Linked DNA regions of Homo sapiens: all the other regions are linked to region 3. The links come from fine-mapping of genetic effects on gene expression. A gene starts in region 3. Each other region holds a variant in brackets. All regions are shown on one strand. Distances are between the middles of the regions.

Region 1 (6,576 bases), 36 kb after region 3:
GGCTGGTTCTCAGCACACCTTCCATGAATCTGCTTGCTGCTGCTTCAGTGTGGTGGCCATCATGCTGTGTGACAAACCAGGCTGTTCACAGCTTCCTCAGCCCCCCAGAAGGGGAGTGTCAGGAAGAGACATTTAGTTCATTTGCCTGCAAATTTTCTTCTCCTGCAAGGATCTCGGTGGACTCAGTCACAAAACAAAGGCTAAACCAGGATTTATAAGAGAGGGCTTATAAATCCCTCTGCCGACGCAGGGAGCAGAGACTTGCCGGCATGTTTTGGGGGTAATGATCGTGGGCAGGGAGCAGAGGTCCGCTGAGGCAGTCTGTCCTTGAGACTAACAAAGTCATCTGCTGTTTGGGGAAATCTCTGGTGTTGGGAACAGGCCCCCAAATCTGGCCATAAACTGGCCCCAAAACTGGCCATAAACAAAATATCTGCAGCACTGTGACATGTTTGTGATGGCCATGACCCCCACCCTGAAGGTTGTGGGTTTACTGGAACGAGGGCGAGGAACACCTGGCCCACCCAGGGCGGAAAACCGCTTAAAGGGGTTCCTGAACCACAAACCATAGCATAAGTGATCTGTGCCTTAACGACATGTTCCTGCTGCAGATAACTAGCCAGACCCATCCCTTTATTTCAGCCCATCCCTTTATTTCCTGTAAGAAATGTTTTTAGTTAATCTATAATCTATAGAAATAATGCTTATCACTGGCTTGCTGTCAATAAATATGTGGGTAAATCTCTGTTCAAGGCTCTCAGCTCTGAAGGCCGTGAGACCCCTGATTTCCCACTCCACACCCTATATTTCTGTGTATGTGTCTTTAATTCCTCTAGCACCGCTGGGTTAGGGTCTCCACAACCGAGCTGGTCTCGGCAAGTGGCACCCATACGTGGGGGCTCGAACCCAGGTCGAAGAGTCACTGGAGCGACGGTTGGAGAACGTGGAACTAAGCTGGAGGACACCCGAGTACTCTTAAGCAATCCCCATGGTGAGTAAGAAGGGGAGCTCGGAAGCATCAGGGTAGCAATGGGACAGGTGTGGGTTCTGGTTCATTCCACCTTGGAACCTTTTCACACTGATGAGGAGCAGGGAGAGTGTAATGAAGTAATGGAAGAGGTAACAGAGCAGGTTTGTTTGCCAGCTAAAGCTAAAGTGGCAAAGGAGGAAGAGGTTCATCCCTACCCTTCTGCATCCCCTCCTTAGTGTGAAGAAAAAGAGTGACCTGACCCTCCAGATCTTTCTTTTCCAGAGGACACTGGGTGAAAAGTAGTTGCCCCAGTGACTGTTTGGGCAGTGCCTCAAGCGACTGCTCTCAGTTCCATTCAGGCAGGAATTCAGCAAGCTAGAAGAGAGGGTGATTTAGAGGCTTGGCAGTTCCCTGTTAGAATACATCCCCCAGATCAACAGGGAAATATTACAGCTACATTTGAGCCTTTTCCTTTTAAATTACTCAAAGAATTTAAACAAGCTATTAATCAATATGGACCAGGTTCTCCTTTTGTAACGGGACTGTTAAAGAATGTTGCTGTTTCCAGTCGGATGATTCCTCCTGACTGGGACGCTCTTACTTGAGCTTGTCTAACTCCTGCTCAGTTCTTACAATTTAAAACTTGGTGGGCAGATGAAGCTTCCATTCAGGCTCCTCGCAACACCCAGGCCCAACCTCAAATTGATATAACTGCACACCAACTTTTGGGGGTCGGCGGCTGGGCTGGTTTAGATGCACAGGTGGTCATGCAGGATGATGCCATAGAGCAGCTTAGAGGAGTGTGCATCAGAGCTTGGGAAAAAATCACTTCAGGTGGAGAACAGTACCCTTCCTTTGGTGCTGTAAAACAGGGACCAAAAGAACCGTACACAGATTTTATAGCTCGGTTACAGGAGTATCTTAAAAAGGTGATTGCAGATTCGGCTGCTCAGGATATAGTGTTGCGGTTATTAGCTTTTGACAATGCTAATCTCAATTGCCAGGCTGCTCTGTGACCTATTAGAGGGAAAGCACATTTAGTTGATTATATCAAGGCCTGAGATGGTATCAGAGGTAATCTGCATAAAGCTACTTTGTTGGCACAGGCAATGGCAGGACTGAAAGTGGATAAAGGAAATACTCCATTTCCTGGAGCTTGTTTCAACTGTGGGAAGCATGGGCACACTAAAAAAGAATGCAGAAAAAAATCAGCAAGTCAGGCCGGCAGACAGGGGAAAAAAGAAAACTGCTGAGCCTGATATATGTCCAAAATGTAAAAAAAGGAAAACATTGGGCTAATCAGTGTCACTCTAAGTTTGATAAAGATGGGAACCCGATTTCGGGAAATGCCATGAGGGGCCCATCCCGGGCCCTGTTCGAAACCAGGGGCATTTCCGCCTCAGGCCACTCCTTCACCCCTGTACAATGTCTGTCCCCTGCCACAGCCAGTAATGCCACAGTAGATTTATGCTGCACAAAAGCTGTGAGCCTTCTGCCTGAGGAACCCCCGCAAAAAGTTCCAACAGGGGTCTGTGGACCCTTGCCAG[T/C]GGGGACAATAGGATTACTTCTAGGGAGGTGTAGTTTAAATTTAAAGGGGGTACAAGTACAAACAGGAGTCACTGATTCAGATTACAATGGAGAAATTCAAATTGTTTTTTCTACTTCTGTTCCCTGGAAAGCAGAGCCAGGAGAGCGCATAGCACAGCTCCTGAATGTGCCATATGTGGGAATGGGAAAAAGTGAAATTAAACGAACAGGAGGATTTGGAAGCACAAATAAACAAGGCAAAACAGCTTATTGGGTGAATCAAATTACTGATAAACGTCCTACCTGTGAAATAACTATTCAGGGAAAGAAATATAAAGGTTTGGTAGATACAGGAGCGGACATTTCATTTCTCTATAGCAATGGCCGTCCACATGGCCAATTCAACCTGCTCAGTTTAACATAGTTGGAGTTGGTAAAGCCCCTGAAGTATATCAAAGTAGTTATATTTTGCATTGTGAAGGGCCTGATGGACAACCTGGGACTATTCAACCAAAACTTCTGTACCTATAAATTTATGGGGAAGATATTTATTACAACAATGCGGAGCACAAGTTCTAATTCCAGAACAATTATATAGCCCTCAAAGTCAACATATGATGCATGAAATGGGGTATGTCCCTAGTATGGGACTAGGAAAAAATTTACAAGGTTTGAAGGAACCGCTTCAAGCAGAAATACAAGTTTCCGCCAAGGTTTAGGATATTATTTTTGATGGCGGCCATTGTTAAGCCTCCAGAACCTATACCTTTAAAATGGTTAACAGATAAGCCAATTTGGATAGAACAATGGCCGCTAAGTAAAGAGAAACTGAAGGCTTTAGAGGAATTAGTTACTGAATAATTAGAAAACGGACACATAGCTCCAACATTTTCCCCTTGGAATTCTCCAGTTTTCGTAATTAAGAAAAGAATCAGATAAACGGAGAATGTTAACTGACTTAAGAGCCATTAATTCAGTTATACAACCCATGGGTACATTACAGCCAGGATTGCCTTCTCCTGCTATGATTCCAAAAAATTGGCCTTTAATAGTCATAGATTTAAAAGACTGTTTCTTTACTATCCCCTTAGCTGAGCAAGACTGTGAACAGTTTGCATTTACAATTCCTGCAGTAAACAACCTGCAGCCTGCTAAGCGTTTTCACTGGAAAGTATTGCCACAAGGCATGTTAAACAGCCCAACAATTTGCCAGACTTATGTAGGGCAAGCAATTGAACCTACTCGTTAAAAGTTTTCACAGTGTTACATTATTCATTATATGGATGATATACTTTGTGCTGCCCCCACTCGAGAAGTATTACTCCAATGTTATGATCACTTACAAAATTCGATTTCTTGCGCTGGTTTAATTATAGCTCCTGACAAAATTCAGACTACTACTCCTTACTCCTACTTGGGGACCTTAGTAAATGACACTACCATTGTGCCACAGAAAGCAACCATACATAGGAATCAATTGAAAACATTAAAGGACTTTCAAAAATTACTAGGGGACATTAATTGGATACGACCTGCTCTAGGCATTCCTACCTATGCCATGAGTAATCTATTTTCTATCCTTAGAGGAGATCCTGGTCTCACAAGCCCTCGGTAATTAACAAGAGAAGCTGAGGCAGAGCTGCGGCTAATCGAAAAGCAAGTCCATAAAGCTCAAATAAATAGATTAGATCCAGAGAAGACTCTAGATTTGCTAATTTTTCCAACTCAGCATTCACCTACTGGTGTTATTGTTCAAGAGTGAGATCTTGTAGAGTGGCTTTTTCTTCCACATACTAATTCACGGACTCTAACTCCTTATTTGGATCAAATTGCTACTATGATAGGAAATGGGAGAACTCGGATTGTTAAATTACATGGATATGATCCTGGAAAAATTATTATCCCTCTCACAAAGGCACAAATACAGCAAGCTTTTATAAATAGTCTTACTTGGCAAACCAATTAAGCTGACTTTGTGGGTATTCTCGATAACCATTTTCCTAAACAAAACTGTTTTAATTTTTGAAATTAACTAATTGGATTCTCCCTAAAATAACTAAATTTAAACCAATTGAAGGTGCTGAAAATGTTTTTACAGATGGGTCTAGTAATGGTAAAGCTTCTTATTCTGGCTCAAAAAGTAAAGTTTTTCAGATGCCCTATACTTCAGCTCAAAAAGTGGAGCCTGTAGCTGTAATTGAGGTAGTGACTGCTTTTCATATGCCTATTAATGTGATTTCTGACTCTTCATACGTGATTCATTCCACACAATTAACTGAAAATGCTCAGTTACAATTTCCTGCAGATGAACAACTGATGATTTTATTTACCCAACTGCAAACAGCAGTTAGGAGTAGAATGCACCCTTTTTACATCACTCACATTAGGGCTCATACACCTCTTCCAGGCGTCACCTTTTGCAGTGTTTTGCAGTGATGGGCATTCCAGCTTCTATTAAAACAGATAAAGCCCCAGGCTACACTAGCCGAGCTCTAGCTACATTTTTCTCTATACGGAATATTAAACACATTACTGGTATCCCATATAATTCTCAAGGACAAGCCATAGTGGAAAGAATGAATCTCTCCCTGAAACAGCAGTTGCAAAAGCAAAAAAAAGGGGGGAAAACAAGGACTACGGGACACCCCATATGCAACTGAATCTAGCATTGTTAACTTTAAATTTTTTGAGCCTGCCTAAAGGCCAGATCCTATCAGTAGCTGAACAGCATCTACAGAAACCAGCTGCAAAGACAGAAGCAGAACAACTAGTTTGGTGGAGAGATCCAATAACAAAAAGTTAGGAAATAGGTAAAATAATAACTTGGGGTAGAGGTTATGCTTGTGTTTCTCCAGGACTGACTCAACAGCCGATTTGGATACCATCAAGACACCTGAAACCTTATCATGAGCCAGATGCTGAGGAAGAGATTCCGGGAGGAAACTGAGGACCCCCCCCACCCCCGGTTGCAGCCATGTCGAGACTGACGCTGAGGAAGACCCCAACTGTCACGAGCAACACCTGTCAAACACAGCCACCCACCTGGAGACAGATCAAGAAGCTGTCACAGATGGTGGAAGAAAACCTGAGGAAAGTGGGACAACCAGTCGCAATGAGTAATTTAATGGTAGCTATGATAGCGATGATCACCACTGCCATGAGTATTCCTTCAATAAGGGCTGACACAGAGGACAATTATACTTATTGGGCATATTTATCAATCTTGGCTGGCAATAATGCCTGGATGTAATCACTCTATGACACAGTTATACAAGCTTTCTGATCTCATAATAAATCTGCTCCTATAATTGAGGCATACTGCCCTCAAAAACATATTTGTAAACAGGATTGGACCCAGTTAGCAAAAATGAACGTACTTGTTTAGGAAGATTGCTTTGCAGAACAGGCAGAGGTGCTGCACAACAATTCCTATGGAATCATTATTAATTGGTCACCTATGGGGATGTTTAGCTTGAACTGCACCTCTCAGTCTGCATGCCATGGCCACACTGTGATCAGCTCATCTGAACAAAATGGTCAGATGATAGAAATGGTAAGAAATACAGCAAGAGTTCCTATTATCTGGAACCATGGCAGTATAGTGGCACCTCAGCCTCAAATGATATGGCCTGCTCTAGGAGCTAAACATAAGCATTTGTGGAAACTGTTAATAGCTCTTAATAAAATCAAAATTTGGGAAAGAATAAAAAAGCATCTAGAAGGCCACTCTACAAACTTGTATTTGGATATTGCAAAATTGAAAGAACAAATATTTAAAGTATCCCAGGCACACGTGAACTTAATGCCAGGAACTGGAGTGCTTGAAGGAGCTGCAGACAGATTAGCAGCTAGTAACCCATTCAAATGGATAAAAACACTTGGAGGCTCTGTGATTTCAATGATGATTGTGCTTTTACTCTGTGTTGTTTGTCTTTGTATAGTGTGCAGATGCGGATCCTGACTCCTGTGAGAAGTAGCTCACCGTGACAAAGCTGCCTTTGCTTTTATCACTTTGCAAAACAAAAAAGGGGACATGTTGGGAACAGGCCCCTGAATCTGGCCATAAACTGGCCCCAAAA
Region 2 (5,000 bases), 29 kb after region 3:
AGAAACCAGGGAGGATTGGAGCACAAGAGGGAGAGGCTGGTGGACAGCACAAGCTGGCTGGTTGCGGGGTCTCTTCTGGGCAGGCTGGCAGGTGAACCATATGTTCAACTCTTGTTTTCCCACAGAGGGCTTCAGAGGCTGGGAGGTGGAGCATGGCGGGAACGGCTGGGCCATAGAAAAGAACCTAACACCGGTGCCTGGGGCTCCTTCGCAGACCTGCTTCGTGACCTCTTTCGAGTGAGTGGCCCAAGTGAGAGGCCCCGATCCCTGGGGCAAAGGCCCCAAAGAAAGGGACCCTACCCCCCACACTGTCCTCATCGTCACCTTCACCCTCTCCTTCCCCCATTTATTTATTCATTGATTCATTCCATCAATCAACAAATACTTGTTGAGGGTACTGTTTCATATGCCAGGGATACAAGGAAAGATCAGGAAGGTTAGCAACCACAGGCAGCAATGCTCTGTGCATCATCGCCTGCAGTTTGTGAGACAACAGCAAGACAGCTTTGATCTAAAGACAGGGTTTTGGGCCGGGCACGGTGGCTCTCGCCTGTAATCCCAGCACTTTGAGAGCCCGAGGTGGGCAGATCACTTTAGGTCAGGAGTGCGAGACCAGCCTGGCCAACAGGGGGAAACCCCGTCTCTACTAAAAAGACAAAAATTAGCTGGACGTGGAGGCTGAGGCAGGAGAATCGCTTGAACCCAGGAGGCAAATGTTGCAGTGAGCCGAGATTGCACCACTGCACTCCAGCCTGGGCGACAGAATGAGACTCTGTCTCAAAAAAAAAAAAAAAGGGAACATGGCAGATTAGCACCCAAGATGGAGTCGCTTTTGCCTCCACAAGGAGTTACTCTATACTAGACACTTTACATATAATTCTGGCAACAACCCTGTGACATAGATACTATTATTGCCCCCACTTTATAACAGGAAACTGAAGGCCGGGCACGGTGGCTCATAGCTGTAATCCCAGCACTTTGGGAGGCCGAAGTGGGAGGATCTCTTGAGCCCAGGAGTTTGAGGTTGCAGTGAGCCTAGGATCATGCCACTGCACTCCAGCCTGGCAACAGAATAAGACCTTGACTCAAAAGAAAAGAAAAAATGAGAATCTGTTCTCCATGGAATGATGGTGCCACCTCTACAGTTTATGAAGTTTCTGTGTATACCTACGTCTGTCCCTGGCACTCTGTTTTTTTTGTTTTTGTTTTTGTTTTTTGAGATAGAGTCTCATTTTGTTGCCCAGTCTAGAGTGCAGTGGCGCAATCTTGGCTCACTGCAGCCTCTGCCTCCCTGGGTTCCAATGATTCTCCTGCCTCAGCCTCCCGAATAGCTGTGACTACAGAGGTGCGCCACCATGCCTGGCTAATTTTTGTATTTTTTGTAGAGAAGAGGTTTCACCATATTGACCAGGCTCGTCTCTAACTCCCGACCTCCGGTGATCCGCCTGCCTCGGGCTCTCAAAGTGCTGGGATTACAGGTCTAAGCCACCGCGCTCAGCCGGTTCCTGGCACTTTGTTCTATTCCATTGCTCAACTTACCCATCCTTCCACCAATACTGCACAATTTATGTTATTATGGCACATTCTAGTTTGAGGAGAAGGACTGTTTACAAAGTTGTAGGCAGGAGCCCCTGAGCTAGTAACAGTTAGGAAAGGAACGTTACCACCCCTAGACTGCTAGAGGTGAGGGGAGGAAACAGTTACTGGAAAATGAGGAGAGAGTGCCATGGAGATTTGCTTTTTCCTTGGGGGACAAGGCAGTCCCTTGAGAAGGACCTAAGAGGATAAATACCCTGATTTTAGTCACCTCTTTCACTTCCATCCCCTGCCGGAGCATCCCATTGGCTGATCCAACAGGAAGCAATGGGTGACAGAGACAAGGCTGTCCAGCTTTAGACCCGGGGCCCTCACACTTTAGGAGGCCACAGAGCTCCC[C/T]GCTCACATGTCTAGTATGTGGCCTTCATTTGTAGTCATGTCCTGTCCCACAAAGATGAGGGTCAGGCTTTCATAGAGGTCAGCTGCCTGGAGCCCGCAGCAGGGTGGAGAATGGCAAAGGGACTCCAAGAGGCCAAGGAGAGATGTATAGCCCATCATGCATCTTCAGGTCTGCTAGAGCAAACCCTGAGGGCTGCTTTAGAGAGGGTTATCAAGGGAGACTTCTTGGAGGAGGTGGCTTCTGACTGTGACTTGAATGCCAGGACTGTTTGCCCTGCCCCCTGCCATCTCTCCTTCCCAGATGGTGCTCCAAGAGGCAGCTTGTGGACCTGGTGATGGAAGGGGTGTGGCAGGAGCTGCTGGACAGCGCCCAGATTGAGATCTGTGTGGCTGACTGGTGAGTGAGGAGCGGCACCCTGCCCCAGAGCAGCAGCAGGCTTGGCAGCGGCTCTGCAACAGGGGCTCATTTCCCGCCCCATCAACCCCACGGGTAGCGGCTGTCACTGTGCACCCTTTGTGATGAGGCTGAGAGGGGAAGTGATGCAGAGCCGGGGAAGGTAGAGCTTTGGAGAAGCCAGAGCCCCCACTCTGCACTCCTGCCCACCCTCATCCCAGCAGGCTGGGGTGGTCCACAGGGGGCCACTGACTGGCTTGATACCCCTCTGAAACGAGACACCTCCCCTGACCACCTTGTGGATGCCCAGGGTCTCTGAAGGGGTGGGAGCATGGTGCCCTGTGAGCTGAGGCTCAGGGAGCATAGTTGGGACAGGACTGGCTTCAGAGCCTACAGGCTTAGGATGAATGCCTTCTTCCCAAAACACCCAGGTTCTGCCCCAAAGCATTCCAGCTCCTCCTTCAGGCTGTGGCTCTTCCATAGAAAATCTGGTCTCTTCCCTGGGGCTCTGGCTCTTCCCTGAAGTCATCAGGCACCTGCCCTGCATTGTGGTTCTTCCCCAGAGCATCCTTTCCCGTCCCCCAACTACCTACCCAAAAGCCTCCAGAATCAACCGCAGGACCACCCAGGCTCCTCCCCCAGGACCACCCAGGCTCCTCCCCTGCTCTGGCTCCACCCCAGGACCACCCAGACTCCTCCCCCAGGCTCTGGCTCCACCCCAGGGTCACCCAGGCTTCTCCTCCAGGTTCTGGTTCCACCCCAGGACCACCCAGGCTCCTCCCCCAGGACCACCCAGGCCCCTCCCCCAGGCTCTGGTTCCACCCCAGGACCACCCAGGCTCCTCCCCCAGGACCACCCAGGCTCCTCCCCTGCTCTGGCTCCACCCCAGGACCACCCAGACTCCTCCCCCAGGACCACCCAGGCCCCTCCCCGAGGCTCTGGCTCCACCCCAGGACCACCCAGATTCCTCCCCCAGGACCACCCAGGCCCCTCCCCCAGGCTCTGGCTCCACTCCAGGACCACCCAGACTCCTCCCCCAGGACCACCCAGGACCCTCCCCCAGGCTCTGGCTCCACCCCAGGGTCACCCAGGCTCCTCCCCCAGGCTCTGGCTCCACCCCAGGACCACCCAGGCTCCTCCCCCAGGCTCTGGCTCCTCCCCAGGACCACCCAGGCTCCTCCGCCAGGCTCTGGTTCCACCCCAGAACCACCAAGGCTCCTCCCCTAGAGGTTCCCAGGCCAGGACGTCTCCAAATGTGGTCCAGATGTGCAGGACCTTCATCAAGATGGAGCCAGCCCTCAGCCTCCCGCCCCGAAACCCAGAGAGCTGGCTGGGTGACGGGGGCATAGAGGCTGACTGCTGCCTGGCAGGTGGGGCGCTCGAGAGAACTGCGGCTGCGTCTACCAGCTCCGGGTCCGCCTTCTGGATGTGTATGAAAAGGAAGTGGTCAAGTTCTCAGCCTCACCTGACCCGGTCCTTCAGTGGACTGAGAGGGGCTGCCGACAGGTGGGTCCAGACTAGCTTCCAGCTCCCCCCGACCCGCTAAAGGCACACACGCCCAGCCTCTCGTCTGCTCGGTTTCCCTTCTGTCACTCCTGGATATCTATAATCATAACAGCTAAGAAGTATCGAGCCCTTCTTACATCCCAAGCCCTGTGTCAAGACGCTTACATATCGATTCATTTCATTAGCAAAACCCCTTAATGTTCAACAAACACTGATTGAGCACCTACTGTGTGCTGGGCACCACTCTATGTGCTGGAAATGCAGCAGTGAAGCAAAATCCTATCTCCATTCTAGAGTTGAGGAAACAGAGGCACAGACAGGGAGGTTATGTGACTGGTCCAGTGCAGAGCTGGACTCAAGCCCAATCTGGCACCAAGACTATGCTGTCTTGATCCTCACACCTCAGTTACCAAAGTAAATGTTTCGGCTGGGCACAGTGGCTCATACCTGTAATCCCACCACTTTAGGAGGCCAAGATGGGAGGACAGCTTGAGGGCAGGAGTTTGAGGCCAGCCTGGGCAATATAGCGAGACCTCCATCTCTACAAAGAAATTAAAAATTAGACGGGCATGGTGACTTGCACCTGCAGTCTCAGCTACTCAGGAGGCTGAGGTGGGAGGATGGTTGGAGCCCAGTTGGTCCCACTGCACTCCAGCCAGGGCAACAGACTGAGACGCTAACTAAAAATAATAATAATAATAATAATAATAATGAGTCAGATCAGAAGTCTCACTGCTTGTAATGCTCCTGTGGCTACATCTCACAGTAAAAGCCAAAGTTATGCAGCCACGGAAAAGAAATGAAGCATGAATTCACACTGCAACGTGGATAAACTGAAAACATGATGCTGAAAGAGGCCAGACATGAAATGACAAATACTGTATGATTCCACATATATGAAATGTACACTAAGAAGATTGGCGACTGCCAGGGGCTGGGGGAGGGAGGTCTTGGAAATGACAGCTCATGGATGCAGAGTTTTTTCCTGGGGTGATGGGAATTAGGTAGTGGTGATGGCTGCATAATATCGTGAATCAACTAAAAACCACTGAATTGTACACTTTAAAAAATGAATTTTGGGCCGGGTGTGGTGGCTCATGCCTGTAATCTCAGCACTTTGGGAGGTCAAGGCGGACAGATCACTTGAGGGCAGGAGTTCAACACC
Region 3 (6,576 bases):
GTAGAGATGGGGGTCTCACTATGTTGCACAGGCTGGTCTTGAACTCCTGGTCTCAAGTGATCCTGCTGCCTCCCAAAGCACTAGGATTACAGACATGAGCCACCGTGCCCGGCCAATGTAAACATTTGATAACACATCAGATTGGCAAATGTCAGGGCCTCCTAGTTCAGTTCTTCTTGGTTGATGGGAATGACAGTTGAGGTTTTATTGTGATAGAAGGCTTTAGATTTAATTGGGTAGAAACAGGCCTTGCTCAGCAGAAAGAGCTGCAAAGTAGGCACATCAGCCTGCACCATGTGAGGAGACACCAGGAACAAATGTGACTCCGAGGGAAAGCACGACCAAGACCATAAATAAAACCTCTCTTCCTGTTCAGATCCAAGCACATGGACAGGCTCTGAGTGACAACCGCATTCAGTGGGCTGCCCTGCTAGAGGTTCCCCAGGCCTCTCCACCGGTCCTGAATCATCAGCCTTCCTGAAACTGGCTCTGACCTAAAGCCGAAACCTCAGCAGGTCTGAGGCGGTTACCAGGGCTCCTTATATTGGGTGAGTCAAATCACACTCCCTGCAGGAAAGGAGTCTAAAAACTAGAATACCAATAATAAAGAAACAAGGCCAGATGCAGTGGCTTATGCCTGTAATCCCAGCATTTTGGGAGGCCAAGGCAGGCGGATTGTTGAGCTAATGAGTTCGAGACCAGCCTGGGCAGCATGGCGAAACCTCATCTCTACAAAAAATACAAAGATTAGCCGGGCATGGTGGCGTGCCCCTGTAGTCCCAGCTACTTGAGGGGCTGAGGTGGGAGGATCACTTGAGCCCAGGAGATCAAGGCTGCAGTGAGCTGTGATCATGCCACTGCACTCCAGCCTGGGTAACAGAGCCAGACGCTGACTCAAAAATAAATCAATAAATGAAAAATAAACAATTCCACTTTTTGTAATAATAACAATAAAGAAACAAGCTCAAGTCCATGGGTATCAGCACACTGGTGACACGTGTCAGCACAAGTATGCATTAGCTTTGTAATCATTATAATAACACACAATTGCTTTGTCTATTTGTTAAGGTATTTACAACAATCGCAAACATCTGACATTAGATTTGGGAAGGCTTTAAGCGATGGCTTTTGGAAGGAATGTTGAAATGATTAGGGAAATCTGGTTTCGAGGAAGACTTAGAGGAACAACTGTTTAATGTTTTATCAAAGAACAAAGATTAGTTAGTATTCTTGTCCCTACATATGCAAGCCCCTGGATGTCAGAGAATTGAGCAGCATGAAGAAATGGCTACTTACGGCCAGGCGTGGTAGCTCACGCTTGTAATCCCAGTACTTTGGGAGGCCAAGACAGGCAGATCACCTGAGGTCAAGAGTTCGAGACCAGCCTGGCCAACATGGCCAAACCCCCTCTCTACTAAAAATACAAAAATTAGCCAGGCGTGGTGGCGCGTTCCTGTAATCCCAGCTACTCGGGAGGCTGAGGCACAAGAATTGCTTGAGCCCGGGAGGTGGAGCTTGCAGTGAGCCAAGATCTAGCCACTGCACTCCAGCCTGGGCAACAGAGCGAGACTCCGTCTCAAAAAACTAAAATAAAATAAATAAACCCCCCAAAATCCGGAATGCAAAACAAACCTAGGCCTACGCCTTTCACATAAGGAACTGCGTGTGGATCTGTGCTAAAAACTCTACCAATAATACAGTAATTTTACAACCCACAGCAGAAAATGCTTTCAAAGGCGGTTGTTACAAATAATGTAATAGTAGTCAAATTAGCGTTGGCTCTGAGTCCAGCACTGTGCTCCGCGCTGCACACGCAGTCTCACGCCGTCCTCACGATGGCGCTGTGGGGCCTGGCTGAGGTTTCTAGGGGAAGGGGCTTTAGGGAATCCAGGCTCTCTGGCTGTGTGACCCCTCCAAGCTAGCGACTTGGACTACGTGCAACAGACCAGGTATCTCTGGACTTCAGTTTCTCGGGAGAGGCGTCCATGAGGAGGTCATGCATACAAAGCATTTAGCACAGTGGCAGATATGAGCCAGTGGGCCTGGAGAATGATTTACCAGCGTGGGGGAGGCCTGGCTTCCAGAAAACTAGCTCTGGGGTGTCTGAGATCAGTCACCTTGAGGTCCCTGGTGCAATCTAGGGCCATCAGAAGGGACTGCAAAGACCCAAGGGCAGAGGTAAAGGGAGAAAATGGGTCGCGGCCCCAGCCTGACCGAAACTGAACCTCCGGATTAATTCAGTTGTCTATAGCTGGGGGGATGGGGAGGACAGGGGAGTCCTAAGGTGGAAGGGTACAGGTTTGTCATTGCCACAGAGAGTGCGTGTGGTGAAGGGATTTAATTTAAGATCAGCCCCGGGCTTCTGAGAATCTGGCCCTGGGAAGCAACGTAAATACAAGAAAATCCCTGTGGCCAGGGACTTTGATCCAAGTGTTTCGAATCAGGCCCTGGGTCGGGCTCACAGCTAAGCGGTTTACCAACCGTGGACCTGTGCAGGATCCCATGGATGTGAGGGGTGGAGACGGCCGCAAGCAGGAGGCCAGGACCAGAAGGAAACGGAATTTGGGTGGGGGTGGGGAGCTAGGACCAGTCCCCCCGCGGGGGCGTCTTGGGGATGTGGAACTCGCACACCCAGAGGAGGTGGCTCTCCCAGGGGTGGGCCCCGGATCCTAGGGGCGCGGGGCTGGCCCCGCTCCCCGCTGGCCTCGCGGCAACTGGGCCTCCCCCTCGCTGCACGCAGCCCTCCAAGCTCCCCCGCCCGCCCGCCCTCGCTCCCGCTGGGCCCCGCAGCCGGAGGAGGGGCGGCCTCCCGCCCCCGCCCGCTGGATCTCAGAGTCGCCGCCCCCGGCGCCGGGCTGCAGCCGCCACGCCCCGGGAGAGGACCGACCGCCCAGACCGCCGGTCCCGGGGCCCCCTGGGCCACGCCGATCACGGGGAGCCCCTCGACTGCCTCCCAGAACAAAGTGGGAAAGGGAAGCTTAGCCCGCCGCTGCCGCCTCCGAGCAGCCCGCCAGGTGAGCGCCGGGACAGGTAGGGGACCCAGGTCGGGACCCAAGCGTCAGTCCCGTTCTCGCCCACAGCTGGGGCGCCCCGGGAAGGATTCCCGCGCCAGGCCCTGCCCGGAGGGGCGGGTCCCTGGGAGTCCCATAACCCGCAGCGTCGCTTTCCCGGGCCCTCCCTCGGCCTGAGGCTCCTTTAAACCCAAAGTTATACAAATGCACGTTAGAAAGCCCTAAATCTGGAAGGGCTTTGCTTTGAACGTGGGTGTTCGAACGCCCAGGCCTCTCCATCCCTGCGCTCGTCCGCGGAGGCCACCATCCAAAACCCCTGCCAAACGCTGCAAACCAACACGTGGGCGCAACAGCCCGGGGAAGGCCAGGCCGCTTTTTACCGTTGCTGGATTTTCTGTCTTCTGGCCGTCAGTCCCTTCGCAGAATCTGTGAATCAGAAGCCTTGGAGGGCGGTTTCTCGATTTAGCAACTTGGGCACATTATGTGTTTCGCTGCGGCCCCAACCCTCAATTTAAATTTTGTTCTGCCAAGTTACTTTTGCAATGTTCAGTGATATGTTCGAAAGCTCTGTATACTGCCTCTTCAACTTTAGACAGCGTCTATTTACTCCATATTTTGAAAGACAAATATTATGGGAGTCTAGTTGTAAAATAAATAATACTTCTTTAAAAATGTTCCAGTAATACACGACACTCAGACACGTAGGACAGGACAGAGCTTTGCATGGAAAACAACACGCCTTTAAACAACAACCTCTCCCTCACCACCGCCCCCAACCCCTGTCGGCCAAATACATTTTTTTGTTAACTACATTACTTTTCAAAAATGGCAAGAAGTAACTCGTGATCGCTGGTGCCTCGTTTTTAACTTTTTCCACTTTTTATTCCTCTGGTATCTATTTCCAAATCTTTACAGCATATTTTTGGATTGTTATTTCTTATTTCATCAACTTTTAGACAACGCGTCCATGGATCCCTTGCTAAAAATAGGAGACAACTTTGATCATCTCCGTGGTTTTCCTCCTCCCTATATAATCACCTCCCTGTATAGTCAGGACATTACTTTCGGCTTCTCTATTGGCTACTTTTCTAACATAAAATAATTTTTTTAACTTGTATTTATTGTTCCATTAAATATACCTAGTATCTGTTGACTCTCTTTTTGTAAGGCTTGGCTAAGGAGCTTCTTTTTAAAAAATATATTTTTAGGCCGGGCGTGCGCGGTGGCTCACGCTTGTAATCCCAGCACTCTGGGAGGCCGAGGCGGGCGGATCACCTGAGGTCAGGAATTCAAGACCAGCCTGGCCAACATGAACCCCGTCTCTACTAAAAGTACAAAAATTAGCCAGGCGTGGTGGTAGGCGCCTGTAATCCCAGCTACTCAGGAGGCTGAGGAAGGAGAATCGCTTGAACCCTGGAGGTGGAGGTTGCAGTGAGCCAAGATTGTGCCATTGCACTCCAGCCTGGGTGACAAGAGCAAGACTCTGTCTCAAAAAAAAAAAAACTATATATGTACATATATATATGTGTGTATATATATGTGTATATATATATATGTATATATATATATACACATATATATTTGAGACCCTGTCTCAAATCAAATCAAATCAAATCAAAACTGTGTTGCCCAGGCTGGAGTACAGTGTCGTAATCATGGCTCACTGCAGCCTCAACCTCCTGGGCTCAAGAGATCCTCCCACCTCAGCCTCCTGAGTAACTAGGGCTACAGGTGCACGCCCCCCCACCAAACCCCACTAATTTTTTTATTTTTTGTGGATACGGGGTTTTGCCGTGTTACCCAGGCTGGTCTCGAACTCCTGGGCTCAAGCCATCTGCTCGTCTTGGCCATCAAAAGTCCTGGGATTACAGGTGTGAGCCACCGGCGCCCAAACAAAAAGATATATTTTTAAAATAACATTTTTGTATTTATGTAAATATTAATTTCTTCAATTCTAATCAAATTCTACATATGGCTTAGAAATCAAATAGAAAAGTTTGCCTTAATTTTTTCTATAATAAAAGTATGTAATCTCTTTTAGAAGAATGGAAAACGAAGTGTTTTAGATTAAAAGAGATGAGTGAGACCTGCCACCCCCACTGGTGTTTGAGCCCCCACGGGGATCTTGTTAGGAGGAAACAGCCACAGAAGACCTGCTAGAGACAGCAGGGGAAATTGTTCACGGAGTGGGTATTGATGGCAGAATGAATTTTTGAGGCAGAATCTCTCTCTGTCGCCCAGGCTGGAGTGCAGTGGCACAATCTCGGCTCACTGCAACCTCCACCTCCTGGGTTCAAGCGATTCTCCTGCCTCAGCCTCCCTAGTAGCTGGGATTACAAGCATGTGCCACCACGCCTGGCTAATTTTTTTGTATTTTTAGTAGAGATGGGGTTTCACCGTGTTGGTCAGCCTGGTCTCGAACTCCTGACCTCGTGATCCACCCGCGTTGGCCTCCCAAAGTGCTGGAATTACAAGCGTGAGCCACCACGCCTGGCCAGGTTGCCCTTAATCTTAGGAGATTCATTAGGAAGTACTGAAGAGTAGTTCATCAAGGCCGCCAGGCCGGTGACTTATGCCTGTAATGCCAGCACTTTGGGAGGCTGAGGAGTTCGAGACCAGCCTGGCCAACATGTTGAAACCCTGTCTCGACAAAAATAAAAATTTAGCAGGGCATGATGGCGGGTACCTGTAATCCCAGCTACTTAGGAGGCTGAGGCGGGAGAATAGCTTGAACCCAGGAGGTGGAGCTTGCAGTGAGCCGAGATCGCGCCATTGCACCCCAGCCTGGGCGACAAGAGCAAAACTCTGTCCAAAAAGAAAAGAGAGAGTGCAAATATGGCAAAATATGGAGCAGATAGTGATGTTCATTTGATTACTCTTTCAACTTGTCTATAGAATGAAATTTCATAGTAAAAATTGGGAGAAAATAAAGTAAGATTATTTTGAAACAAAGAAAGAGACAGAAGACATGTATACAGTAGCACAAACTATGGAGTCCAATATACCAAGATTCAAATCCCAGCAGGTTTTTTTTTTTTTTCTTTGAGATGGGGTCTCACTCTGTCGCCCAGGCTGCAGTGCAGTGGCACAATCACAGCTCACTGCAACCTTGACCTCCTGGGTTCAAGCAATTCTCCTGCCTCAGCTTCCTGAGTAGCTGGGATTACAGGTGCGTGCCACCACACCCAGCTAATTTTTATATTTTTAGTAGAGATGGGGTTTCATCATGTTGGCCAGGCTGGTCTCGAACTCCTGACCTCAGGTGATCCACCTGCCTTGGCCTCCCAGAGTGCTGGGGATAACAGGTGTGAGTGAGCCACTGCTCCCGGCCTAGTTTTTTTGTTTGTTTTTTTCTATCATTCTTTTCCCTTGGTCCCAGCTTATAAAACCCACCATTCTCTTACTACCCAGTGGGGGTCTCAGTCTGTTTTGTAAAATGGAGGCTGCCCCATTCAAGAATCTTGAATAAAAGCCCATTAGATCTATAACTAAATTTGTTGTAATTTTGTCTTTTGACATGGCTCTGTTGCTTCTTTGTTGGGTGACCTTGGGCACGTTGCTGTCA

The links. PIP is the estimated chance that this variant, and not a neighbour inherited with it, causes the effect.
Region 1: its variant is fine-mapped to the expression of FBXO17 in nucleus accumbens (GTEx, PIP 0.92).
Region 2: its variant is fine-mapped to the expression of FBXO17 in lung (TOPMed, PIP 0.96).

What each region holds. Positions count from the first base shown.
Region 1 is chr19:38,935,629-38,942,204 of GRCh38, reverse strand. It overlaps FBXO17 (F-box protein 17), which reads left to right. Exons shown (of 6, transcript NM_024907.7): 6 at 1-804. LOC124904713 (a long non-coding RNA gene) reads left to right here and starts at 807. Exons shown (of 2, transcript XR_007067253.1): 1 at 807-991; 2 at 5,353-6,576. The variant T/C (reference allele first, on the strand shown) is at 2,518.
Region 2 is chr19:38,943,804-38,948,803 of GRCh38, reverse strand. FBXO17 (F-box protein 17) reads left to right here. Exons shown (of 6, transcript NM_024907.7): 3 at 126-237; 4 at 2,237-2,332; 5 at 3,700-3,835. Among named protein-coding and RNA genes, the nearest start is that of MRPS12, 15 kb to the right of the region's middle. The variant C/T (reference allele first, on the strand shown) is at 1,936.
Region 3 is chr19:38,972,024-38,978,599 of GRCh38, reverse strand. It overlaps FBXO17 (F-box protein 17), which reads left to right and starts at 2,858. Exons shown (of 6, transcript NM_024907.7): 1 at 2,858-3,014. RefSeq lists enhancers at 312-411, 862-911.